Linked DNA regions of Homo sapiens: region 1 is linked to region 2. The links come from fine-mapping of genetic effects on gene expression. Tissue or cell type: Th2 cells. Region 2 holds a variant in brackets; the other region holds the start of a gene. All regions are shown on one strand. Distances are from middle to middle.

The links. PIP is the estimated chance that this variant, and not a neighbour inherited with it, causes the effect.
Region 1: NT5M starts here. The variant in region 2 is fine-mapped to the expression of NT5M in Th2 cells (Schmiedel 2018, PIP 0.95).

Annotation. Positions count from the first base shown.
Region 1 is chr17:17,300,747-17,306,455 of GRCh38, reverse strand. It overlaps NT5M (5',3'-nucleotidase, mitochondrial), which reads right to left and starts at 3,083. Exons shown (of 5, transcript NM_020201.4): 1 at 2,639-3,083. The coding sequence starts at 2,905. RefSeq lists silencers at 2,514-2,703, 2,834-2,933, 2,984-3,153 and an enhancer at 5,127-5,702.
Region 2 is chr17:16,970,799-16,976,507 of GRCh38, reverse strand. TNFRSF13B (TNF receptor superfamily member 13B) reads left to right here and starts at 4,390. Exons shown (of 5, transcript NM_012452.3): 1 at 4,390-4,493. The coding sequence starts at 4,433. It overlaps LOC284191 (a long non-coding RNA gene), which reads left to right. Exons shown (of 3, transcript NR_148948.1): 3 at 1-509. RefSeq lists enhancers at 491-620, 2,669-2,718, 2,789-2,958. The variant C/T (reference allele first, on the strand shown) is at 3,271.

The DNA.
Region 1 (5,709 bases), 330 kb before region 2:
AGTGGTTCTTCATTCCTCTCACTCCCCCAAACACACACCCAAGGACGTACTTCCTGGGGGTAGTGCGGAGAGTATGTGGACTTCGAACCCCTTTCCAGAAAGGACCTGACTTCGTCGGGATCCAGCAGAGACCAGCAAAGGTGTCAGGCCCATGGACTCCTACACCTGCTGGAGCTCTCTGGGACCTGAGGCCAATCATCAGGAACTGCGTGCTTGTTAGGCTGGATTCGAGTGGCCAAAAGCATTGTGGAAACTGAGGCTGGACCAGCTCTTACCATGGTAGTAGAGTCCTTAAACTTGAGAACTGGAGGGACTCAGAGATCTTTAAGGTGCCATGAGGGACAAGGGGGAGGGGGAGACAGGGTAAAAGGACAATTCAGGGAGCTCGAGGATCCTCCCCACATTAACCAGAAGAGCTCTGCTTTTATCGGTTTTATATGTTGAGGTGCCAATAAGTACATTTTTAAAAAAAGGATTCTGCTGCTTTTAGAGTTGCAAAGCAAAAATGCAGACCCTCATTTTACATGTCAGAAAACTGAGGCTCAGAACGGGGAAGAGATCCACCTGATGTCACACAGCAAAACAGCAGCTGAGCTGGGAGAAGAACCCCCAACACCAACCCTCTCCTCCCCACTCCCCAACCCCCGCTGCCTTTCTCCTTCCCCTGTTCTGCTGCAGGGCCAGAATGCAGCACCTTTTCTAGGGTCAGGCAAGGGGAAAGTGACAACCAGAGGGGAGACACATCTCAGCCTATGAGCAGGAGCCTAAATCCCACGTGTGCAGTACAGGAAGTGCCTCTACCAGCTGTTCTGCACACTACAGAAAGACAGCCACCCTGTCACATGGACGGCCGGAGGATGCCCTGACAGCATACCAGCAACACTCTCAGGAACCACAGGGACTAGGCAAATGCGTGCTTATTACTGAAACACATTTGATCCTCACATCCCACATAGGGTACTGTGAAGACCAAAGGGAATACAGACAGAGCAGAATTTTGAAAAGTAGAAATGCCTACATACACATAAGGAGCCACGTGTGTGGGGGCGGGGGGGGGGGGGCGGTTGTTTTAACCACAGATACTGGGCCAGCTTGGGGTAGGCCCAGGGATGTCCACAGCAGCAAGCCGTGCCTCAGGAAGGGAAGTAGTGGAAGCCAGCAGATTACTCCCAAGGCACCCTCCTTACTGCCCCGTGCCTTTGCCTTGTGCTTGGAAACCAGTAACCCCACACGTACAGAGCCTACATATTTGCACAAAGAACTGGAAAAGCTGCTGCACTTTTCGGAGTTGGGGGTGGGCTTGGTTTCCACGTTAATACACTCCCGGGCGGATATATGGTGTCCAGACTCCCCATGCCGAGCGCTGCCTATAAATGAACACTCGCCACACACTGGAGCCTATTCCTGAGGCTGCAGAAAGTACCAGGGCATTTTCTCCAGTTTAAAGTTTATCATTAGGCATCCGCTGTAGAAGAGCTCAGCACACTGGGCTCTGTGAAAGTCACCTTCTGAAGTGCCTGGTGTTGATGGAGACAAACGGTACTTGGTTTCCTTTTTTAACACCTGTCCCTCAACAAACCACATTACTGATGAGGCATCTTTCTGATGTCAGAAGAAATGTCACTTGTTAGAGACAGTAGTACAGAGAACAGGACTGTGGAGTGGGGAGCACTAACTGTGCTTGGGAGGCAGACAGACTTGGGTTTGAGTCCTGACTGAGCCCCTGAGCAGCATGTGACTTGGGGCAAGTTTCCTCATCTGGAAAACAGAGATAATAATATCTACCCAACAAAAGAGAGGATGCAGTGAACTTGTGGCTAAAAAACGGGCTCTTGTAACTTCCTTCTCCTCTTTATCAAACCCTCCAGCAGCAACCCTAGGTGGCCAATCAAGGGATGCCAAAAAACACTCAGCCTCTTTAATTTTGTGCATACCAAAATCCCCTGTTCCTTTTGCAAAATACTTCAAATTTACCAACCAAGATCTGTGTGTAAACGTCCCTCCTTGGATCTTTCCCCTCTATCCATCCTGGACAGAACACCTCGGGAGTCGGATGGTAGGGGTTGAGCTCAGGTGTTCAGCAAGGCCAGCTCTGCAAGGGGATAAGACATGAGGTGGATCCCACCTCACCTGGACCACTGACTCACTGTGTGACCCCCAGAAAGTCACACAACCTCTCTGGGCCTCAAATACCCCTGGAAGCTATGCTTTCATGGACAACAGTAAAAAAGATGGGTAAAGACACCCATCAAAGTCCTGGGGACAAAGAAGTGGGAATGTGACTGCGGTCGGGGTGAAAGAGGACAACTTATAACGTTTATTTTTCTAAAAATTTAACAAACGACTTGAGGCCAAATATGCCACAAATTTTGAAGTCAGCTTTAAATGCAGAGTTAGGTATATTAACACTTTGTACTCTCCCGCATTTTCAGAAACCTTGGATGGCAGCCAACAGATCCTGAGCGCGGGGCCGCATCTTCCCGGTGCGCTGTGGCCCCTAGTCCCCCCCAGACCCTATTCTATCAGAGGGCCACCCCGAGGCTGGGGCGCTGACCGTCCAAGGTCACCGGCGCAGGGGCGGTGTCTGGGGCTCGGGGCGAGAAGGAGGCCCGGCGCGGGGCGGGGCGGGGACGCTCACGCTCAGCCCTGGCCGCAGGCGGCCGTACTGCTCCGACACCCAGAAGCCGCGCCGGTCCTCCAGCGCGATGAAGGGCTGGTCGGGAAAGCGCGCGCGGAACTTCCTGAGGAATCCGCCCTCGAAGTCAGCCAGCACGCCGTCCATGTCCACCAGCACCCGTAGGGCGCGGCCTCCCGCCAGGCCCAGCCCGCCCGCCGCCCCGCGCCGCCCCGCGGGAACCGCCGCGCTGCAGAGCCGCCGCGCACACCAGCCGCCCAGCCGGATCATGGCCCAGCGCGCTGGCCCGTCGTGGGCGCGGGGACCTGGGCCGCGCCGTGCTGCCGGAGCCGGCCAGACATTCCCGCCGCGGAGGAGAAGCCCCCAACGCTGGGGCGCGCGTGGAGCGCGGGACGGGGAGCGGGGCGGGGAGCGCGGGGTGCGGGCGCGCAAGTACCGGCCCCAGAGCGAGGCCGCGGCGCGCGCGGTCCCTAAAGGAACACGCGCCGGCGGAGGCGGAGCCCCGGGGCGGGGCTTCGAGGACGGACAGCGGTAAGCGCCGCGCGCCTCCAGAAGGTCCGCGCTCCCGCGCTGTCGATTTGCGTCTTCTCCGTGGACCCTGGGCCCGGGCTGCCTTCTCCCACTGCACAGACTACCATGGAGGAGCAGTGCAAACCGAGAAGCAGGCCTGTGTCGTTAGACATTTTTGAGCACTAACTGTGTCGAGTGTGAACCAAATAGACAAAGTTCCTGCCATCCTGGAACTTACGTTTTAGAAGGGGATCCAGACAACAGGATGGAGGAACAAAAACAGGGTGCACTCTGAAAGCCTCTCTGCTTTATTTACAGCAAATGTCTGCGGAGAGACTGATAGAACCAATATCTGCTAACATCATACAGCCTTAGTAAAACTGATGATTCTCAGGTAAATATATGAATAAATATTAAGTACCCCTGTATTGCTTTTTTTTTTTTTTTTTTTTGGAGACGGGGTCTTGCTCTGTTACCCAGGGTGGAAGCAGTGGCATGATCTCGGTTCCCTGCAGCCTTGAGTTTCTGGGCCCAAGGGATCGTCCTGCTTCTGCCTCCTGAGTAGCTGGGACCACAGGGGCCTGCCACCACACCCTGGTAATTTTTTTTTTTTTTTTTTTTTTTTTGAGACAGGAGTCTTCCTATGTTGGGCTCAAACGATCCTCCCACCTCAGCCTCCCAAAGTGCTGGGATTACAGGCGTGAGCCACCGCGCCCGGCCTCTTTTCAACTTTTAAGTACAGGGATACATGTGCAGATTTGTTATATAAATTGACTGTCTTGGGGGTTTAGTGTACAGATTATTATTACCCAGGTAATAAGCGTAGTTCCTGATAGGTAGTTTTTCCATCCTCACCCTCCTCCCACTCTCCACCCTCAAGTAGGTCACCGTGTCTGTTGTCCCCATCATTACGTCCATGTTTACTTAATGTTTAGTTCCCGCTTTTAAGTGAGAGCATGAGGTATTTAATTTTCTGTTCCTGTGTTTGCTTAGGATAATTGTCTCCAGCTCCATCCATATGGCTGCAAAAGACATGATCTTATTCTTTTTTTATGACTGTGAAGTATTCTATGGTATATATGTACCACATTCTCTCCCTTTTTTTTTTTTTTTTCTTGATAGGGAGTCTTGCTCTTGTTGCCCAGGCTGGAGTGCAGTGGCAGGATCTCGGCTCACTGCAACCTCCACCTCCCAGGTTCAAGCGATTCCCCTGCCTCAGCCTCCCAAGTGGCTGGGATTACAGGCGCCCACCACCACACCCAGCTTTTTTGCATTTTTAGTAGAGACAGGGTTTCACTATGTTAGCCAGGCTGATCTCCAACTCCTGACCTTGTGATCTGCCCGCCTCGGCCTCCCAAAGTGCCGGGGTTACAGGTGTGAGCCACCGCACCCGGCCGATTTTTGTATTTTTAGTAGAGACAGGGTTTCACCATGTTGGCCAGGCTGGCCTCAAACTCCTGACCTCAGGTGATCCGCCCCACCCCCCTCGGCCTCCCAAAGTGCTGGGATTAAAGGCGTGAGCCACTGCACCCAGCCTGTGTTACAGCTCTTTTAGCCCCACCATTTGGCAGGTCCCGAGTTCTTGTCCTGCATCCAGGAAGAATGGGGTAGGCAGACAAGTGGAGAGTGAGCAAGACGAAGAGGAGCTTTATTGAGCAACAGAATACTTCAGAAGAGACCTGCAGTGGGCAGCTCCTCTCCATAGCCAGGGTTTCCCCACAAGTGTTCAGCTTTCAGCAGAGAGGGTAGCTCCTCTCTGGTAGGCAGTTCATCCCAACAAGTGTCCAGCTCTCAGCAGAAAGGGTAGTTCCTCTCTGCAGCTGGTTTTCTCCCCATCTACCCGTCCTCTCTTTGAGTCTGGCTGAGTCCAGGGTTTTTTATGGACCTCAGAGGGGAAGAAGTGAGTGCTGATTGGTCCATGGGCGGCCATAGGTGGCCATGAGCAGGCCTGGGGAAAAGCACCACAAGTTCCCCGCTCTGGTACTGGGACTGGTGACCTGGCCCCCAGGCTTCAGGCCCTTCCAGGATTGAAGGTGGGGCTTCACCAGGGACCCGCCCCCTTCCACCGAGGAGCTGTCTGCATTCCTGCTGCTGTTCATGGCGCCCAGGCTGTTCATGCCAAGGGGTACCTGCAGGCCAACACCAGGCTGTCCTCATGCCCCCCTCGGCCGTTCTCCGATGCTTGTTGGCACCCAAGTCCGGAGGGGGCCAAGGAGGCAGGGGGCTGGCGTGTCAGTGCTGCCCTGAGCGTGTGCACTCCCGGCTGGGCTGTGACGGCGCCCTAGCTCGGCCCGACTTTGCTCCGAGATTGAAGCAGGCACCAACAGCAGGGAGAAGCCAGGCAGCAGGAGCAGGCACTTCCGAGCCTGCGAGGGGCAGTGGAGCCTTCACAGGTTCCCAAGAGCACAGAGATGCTGGGCCAGAGCCGCAGCAGGGCAACTGCAGCGGCATCTGGGGAACTCCCGCCCCGCCAACTCAGAAGGGGCGGGGCTCCTGCTGTGCCTTCTATATTGGGTTGCCGTTGCAGTTTTTTAAAAACTCCATCCATCAGGCCGCGCACGGTG
Region 2 (5,709 bases):
AATAATGAAAATGAGGGCTTTCGCTGCATGTCTAAGAAATGTCCTCTTTTGGAGACTCTTCCTTTTGTTTTACACCCAGAACTGTCTCAGAGGAGGTTCAACAGCAGGGCCTCAAGGGACCAGGAGTAGGTGGCAGACATGAGGGAGCTCAAAGAGACCACAGCACCTGCAGGGATGTGGGTCTTTAGGGCCAAAATACCACGGACATGCTAGTGCAGAGTGGAACCATCTCCCTGGGAAATATTGATCAACAGGCCAGTGTTGCCTTTCTTCAAACAATTTAACTTAAGGAGCTCATGCCCCTCAAGGTGACAAAGACGGTAAAATGTGAATTAAATGAGCAGATGTTACGTGTTTAGAACAGTGCCCTAAGTTTTCCCTGTTGTTACTCCCAATGATCACTGTAGGAGTTCATTTCAAAAGCTAAGAACTGTCCGGCAGGCTATACTAAATGGAAAAGGTGGCATGCTAAACAGCAACCTTGATCTGTATAAGCCAGCAGTTGTGTTAAAAAAAAAAAAAAAAGGTATGGAGGGGGAGGGAGAGGTGAAATATATCCTCTAGCGACACGCACATGCTCAGAAATGCCTAGGCTTTGCTGGGAGGCTGTATGAACAAGGTCCACTAAGGGTTGCCGCCTTTGAGTAGGGACATCATGGGCCTAGGATAACCAGACAGGAGAGAAATTTACTTCCGCCATATTCTTTTACTGCTTGAATTTTTTTCTTTACTATGTGTGCATTTTAACTCGCTAATTATACATATATAAATGAACCAGGTCCAAAACCTTAAGGTATATGAGTTATCTCTACTCTGGGTTCTAAATCTCTTCTGTCACCTTGGCTGTGGAGCTTAAAATTAGAATCCCGCATCCTCTTGGGAGACAGCTCAAAAAAAGGCTGGTCTCAGAATGAGCTTTAGAAACCTCCAGCACCTGTTCAATCTTCTGGGGGAGCCAGTGCAGAGGGGGAATCTATTTTTGTGTTTCATGAAACGATCCCATTTGTATGTTTCCATTTATACAAAGTTTGGGGAACAAGCAAAATGAATCTGTGGTGGCAGGAGTCAGAATTGTGACTCTCTTGGGGATGGAGTGGGGTGTGCTGGCTGGAAGGGGCAGTGAGGGACCTTCTGGGGGCTGTGCATGCTCTGAGTTGTGATCTGAGTTGTGGTTGCCTGGGTGTGCATGTATGAGAACACTTACTGAACTTCCCATTTTAAAAGGGTGCATTTCACTGTCTGTAAATTACACCATCTAATTAAAGAAAATAGAAAGCAAATTAAATCCATTCTCTGTAAACTGCATTTGAGCAAAAGCATTAACAAGCTGTGATTGGCAGTAAGACATTAGGGAACTCTGTCATTCAATTCTCAGCCACTCCCCAAATCAGGCTGGATTTTGTTTGTTTTTCATTTCAGGCATAACAGGTATTGGCTTTAAAACTCCAGGACAATGTGTGTGGCTGCAGAGAGCAGCATTCAGTCCCATGGAAGCACAGTCTGGAAGCACAGTCTGCTCACTGGACAAAGCTGAACTTGCTGTCTTTCCTTCTTCTCCTTCCTTCTCCTCTTTCTCCTTCTCCTTCTTCTTCCTCCTCCTCCTTTTTTTGCGACAGGTTCTCATTCTGTAGCCCAGGCTGGAGTGCAGTGGTGTGATCATAGCTCACTGTAGCCTTGAACTCCTGAGCTCCAGCCCAGTGTTGCAATCCTCCAGCCTCCCAAGTTGCTAGGACTACGGGTGCACACCACCACACCCAGCTAATTAAAAAAAAAATTAGGCTGGGTGCAGTGGCTAACGCCTGTAATCCCAGCACTTTGGGAGGCCAAGACGGGTAGATCACTTGAGGTCAGGAGTTCGAGACCAGCCTGGACAACATGGTGAAACCCTGTCTCCAATAAAAATACAAAAATTAGCCGGGAGTGGTGGCTCACTCCTCTAGTCCCAGCTACTCAGGAGGCTGAGGCACGAGAATCGCTTGAACCCAGGAGGTGGAGGTTGTAGTGAGCTGAGATCACGCCACCACACTCCAGCCTGGGCAACAGAGTGAGACTCGGTCTCAAAAAAAAAAAAATTATAGAGACAGGGTCGCTATGTTGCCCAGGCTAGAGCTGAGCTTTCTAACCATCAGAGCTACCCCCCAGGGAGCCAGCTGCTCCGTGAGGTGGTGAGAGCCCTGACCCTGGGGGTATGCAAACAGGAGGTGAGGGGGGACTCAGTGAGGGCATCCTGTAGTGACTTTGGGCTTGCCCATTTCAACAGGCAGAAAGTTCCTGGCAATGGGATCTCTTTCTTACCTCTCTCTTAGAAATCCACTGCCAGAGCCCAGCTATGGTTTTGTCACTGTTCATTGACACAAGTAATTAAATGTAAACAAGTAATTAAATGTAAAACCCCTACAAATGTAAAAGCCCTAAATGTAAAATGTTTAGCCCTACAAATAGGGCTAAAGTCCCCTTTGACGGTCACCCCCAGTCCTGGTTCCCTCTTGCCCCACCCGGCGAGAGCCAGTTTCGTCATGCATGTCTTTGCAGACTTCTTATGCTTCACAGTCATGTGTGCGTGATCACAGACAACACAGCGCTGTACTGTGTGTGTGTGTGTGTGCATGTTGTTTGCTTTTGGTTTTGTTTTACTAAAAGGCATCATGCTGTAAGGCTCATGCTATAAGCTACTTTTATTTACTCAGCGTCTGTCCTGAAAGCTTCGAGATTTCTCATTCTTTTAACTGTGCAATAGATTCCTGGCTCTGGCCTGTGCACCCTGCTTATTCAGGCATCCTCTGCTGCATGGACATTTACATTGTTTCCCGTTTCTCGCTGTCATGAGGAGGCTCACGGAGGAGGAGAATTTCTGGGGGGTGGGTTAGGTGTGTGTTGTGCATTTAACTGACCCTGGCTGGTTACTCTCCAGAACGCTGCTGCCAGCTCCCTCCCTCCAGTGGGCCCTGAGTTCATGCTTCTGTAGATCACCCCCCTGCCCTTGATGTTACCAACTTTAAAACTTTGCAACCTGATGGCTGAAAGTTAGTTTTTCATTGTTCAGTTGTTTTTCTGATTTTTGGGAGACTGGACATTTTCCTGTGTTTGCTGACCGTCTGCATCTCCTCTCCTGCTCTGTGCACCATCACCCTGCTCCAGCTGCTTCCTGCAGCCTCCCTCCTTCCTCTCCACCTCTCCATGTCCTCCTCGTCCTTCAGTTTCTTCCTAAGGGCCCATGGGCTTTCTTTGGCTTTTACGTTCCTCTCACTCCGCCTTTGGCTGTTGCTGGGC[C/T]TCCCATCCCCTGGGAGGTTTCAGACGATGGGGAAGACACAGGAGTGCAGTCGCCATGCAGTGCAATACGGGCTGTAATGTTCCTCCTCCACGGCCTTTATTGAGGACTTACTGTGTGCCAAGAACCTGCTCTAAGAATGTAACTGTGCTCCCTCCCTCATTTCATGCTCATAACCGCCTGTGAGGCGGGCAATGTTCTCATCCTTTTTTTTTTTTTTTTTTTTGAGATGGCATCTCTGTTGCCCAGGCTGGAGTGCAATGGCACGATCTCGGCTCACTACAACCTCTGACTCCCAGGTTCATTCTCCTGCCACAGCCTCCCAAATAGATGGGACTACAGGCACGCGCCACCACACCCGGCTAATTTTTTGTATTTTTTTTTAGTAGAGATGGGGTTTCACCGTGTTGCCCAGGATGGTCTCGAACTCCTGAGCTCAGACAATCCACCTGCCTCGGCCTCCCAAAGTGCTAGGATTACAGGCGTGAGCCACCATGCCCGACCTCATCCTTGTTTTACACAGAGAACATGGAGGCACAGAAGAGTTCCATAAATTGCCACCAAGGCCTTCTGCTAGTATGCAGCAGAGTCAAGATTCAAACGCAGGCTGTCCGGTCCTGGGGTTCAGCCTCTCCAGTGCTCTGCTAGGTGTTGGAGAGGGTCAAGGAGATACAGAGAATGAGTACCACCTGACAGGCTGGGACAGTCAGGGATGGCTTCCTGGAGGAGGTGACACCTCAATGGAGCCTTGAAGGAAGAGCAGGAGGAGCCGACCAGGCAATGAATAGAATAAGTATACCCAGGAAGAGGGAAAGGCCTGAGTGATGCTGGGAGGGTGGAGAGCTGGCCTGGCTTGGGGTGTGTGCCGGCGGGCAGGAGATGAGGACCAAGGGATGGCCAAGGCCAGATCTAGAAGAGCCTGGGCCATCCCATAGTCAATACCTCATCGCAAGGCCCGGCAGGCCTTCCACTGCTCTGTGTGTACCCCATGGGACGCCAGGAGCCTGGGCCGCAGCCACCCACCTGGGCTCCTGAGACCCAATGCACAGGCATGGGGGCGGGAGTGGGTGTGGCTGATTTACATCCAACAGGTTGAGGGGAAAACCCAGGAAGTGCAGCCCAAGCACTAATCAAATCTAAGACTAGTAATAAGCATCCTGAGTAATGAGTGGCCTGGGCCGGAGCAGGCGAGGTGGCCGGAGCCGTGTGGACCAGGAGGAGCGCTGTGAGTAGCCGGGCAGGAGGGCAGGAGGGCAGGTGGGAGGTGTGAGGAGGGTTGGGCCTGAGTGCCGTGGGGGTTGCAAGGTCCAGCAGGTGCAAAGCCCACAGCAGATCCACACACTGGGGCAGTCCCAGCCTCCCCAAGCTCCTGCACATGGAGAGCCCCGAGTCTGGATGCCTCTGGGATGTGGGGCTTGCCTTCCGTGACAGAAGCCACTGAGGTTGCAGGGTTGGCCACACCGGCAGGAATTCCCTTTGTCACCATGGCCCCTGCACAGCCCCCATTTTCCCCCTTACATGCCCGCTGGACCATTTTAATGCTAATCTCAAATACCAGATTGTTTGAGTTGTGGAGACCACAGGATTTATTCCTTAAGAACACAAACCCTAAAAACAAAACAAAAAACTAAGCATCATACCTTCACCCCTGCTGAAACAACAATTCCTGAACATCATCACATAGCCCGCCAGGGTTCAAACTGTACCAACTGTCTCACCAATGTCTTTCTCAGTTGACTTGTTCAAATCAGCCTGTCCCACATTAGACTTTTGGCTATGTTTTAATCTATAACAGTTTCCACCCATTTTTTCTGTTATATATTTATATTTATATTTATCCTATAGCTTTCTTTTTTTTTGTTTTGTTGTTTTGTTTTTGTTTTTGTTTTTTGAGACAGAGTCTTGCTCTGTCACCCAGGTTGGAGTGCAATGGCATGATCTCGGCTTTCTGCAACCTCCGCCTCCCGGGTTCAAGCCATTCTCCTGCCTCAGCCTCCCGAGTGGCTGAGATTATAGGTGCCCACCACCACGCCCGGCTAATTTTTTGTATTTTTAGTAGAGATAGGCTTTCGCCACGTTGGCCAGGCTGATCTCAAACTCCTGACCTCAGGTGATCCACCTGCCTCAGCCTCCCAAAGTATTGGGATTACAGGCATGAGCCACGGCACCCGGCCCGTATAGCATTTTCATCAGGGTGGGTTTCTAAGGTTTTATGAAAGGGCCCCAGGTCCTTTAGTGCAGACAGAACCCATGGCCAGATGGACCCGGGGCACAGCCTAGATTCACAGCCTCTGCCTGCTGCTCTGTCCCACACCTCAGGCAGGGAGCAAATTTGTTCTTCAGTCCTTTTTTGTGTCCAGCCACCAAGTCCCCAGAATCTACACAGCCAGGGGCTCAAATATGTAAAGTTTCTGAGAGACTTGGACAAGGCAGTGACCAGA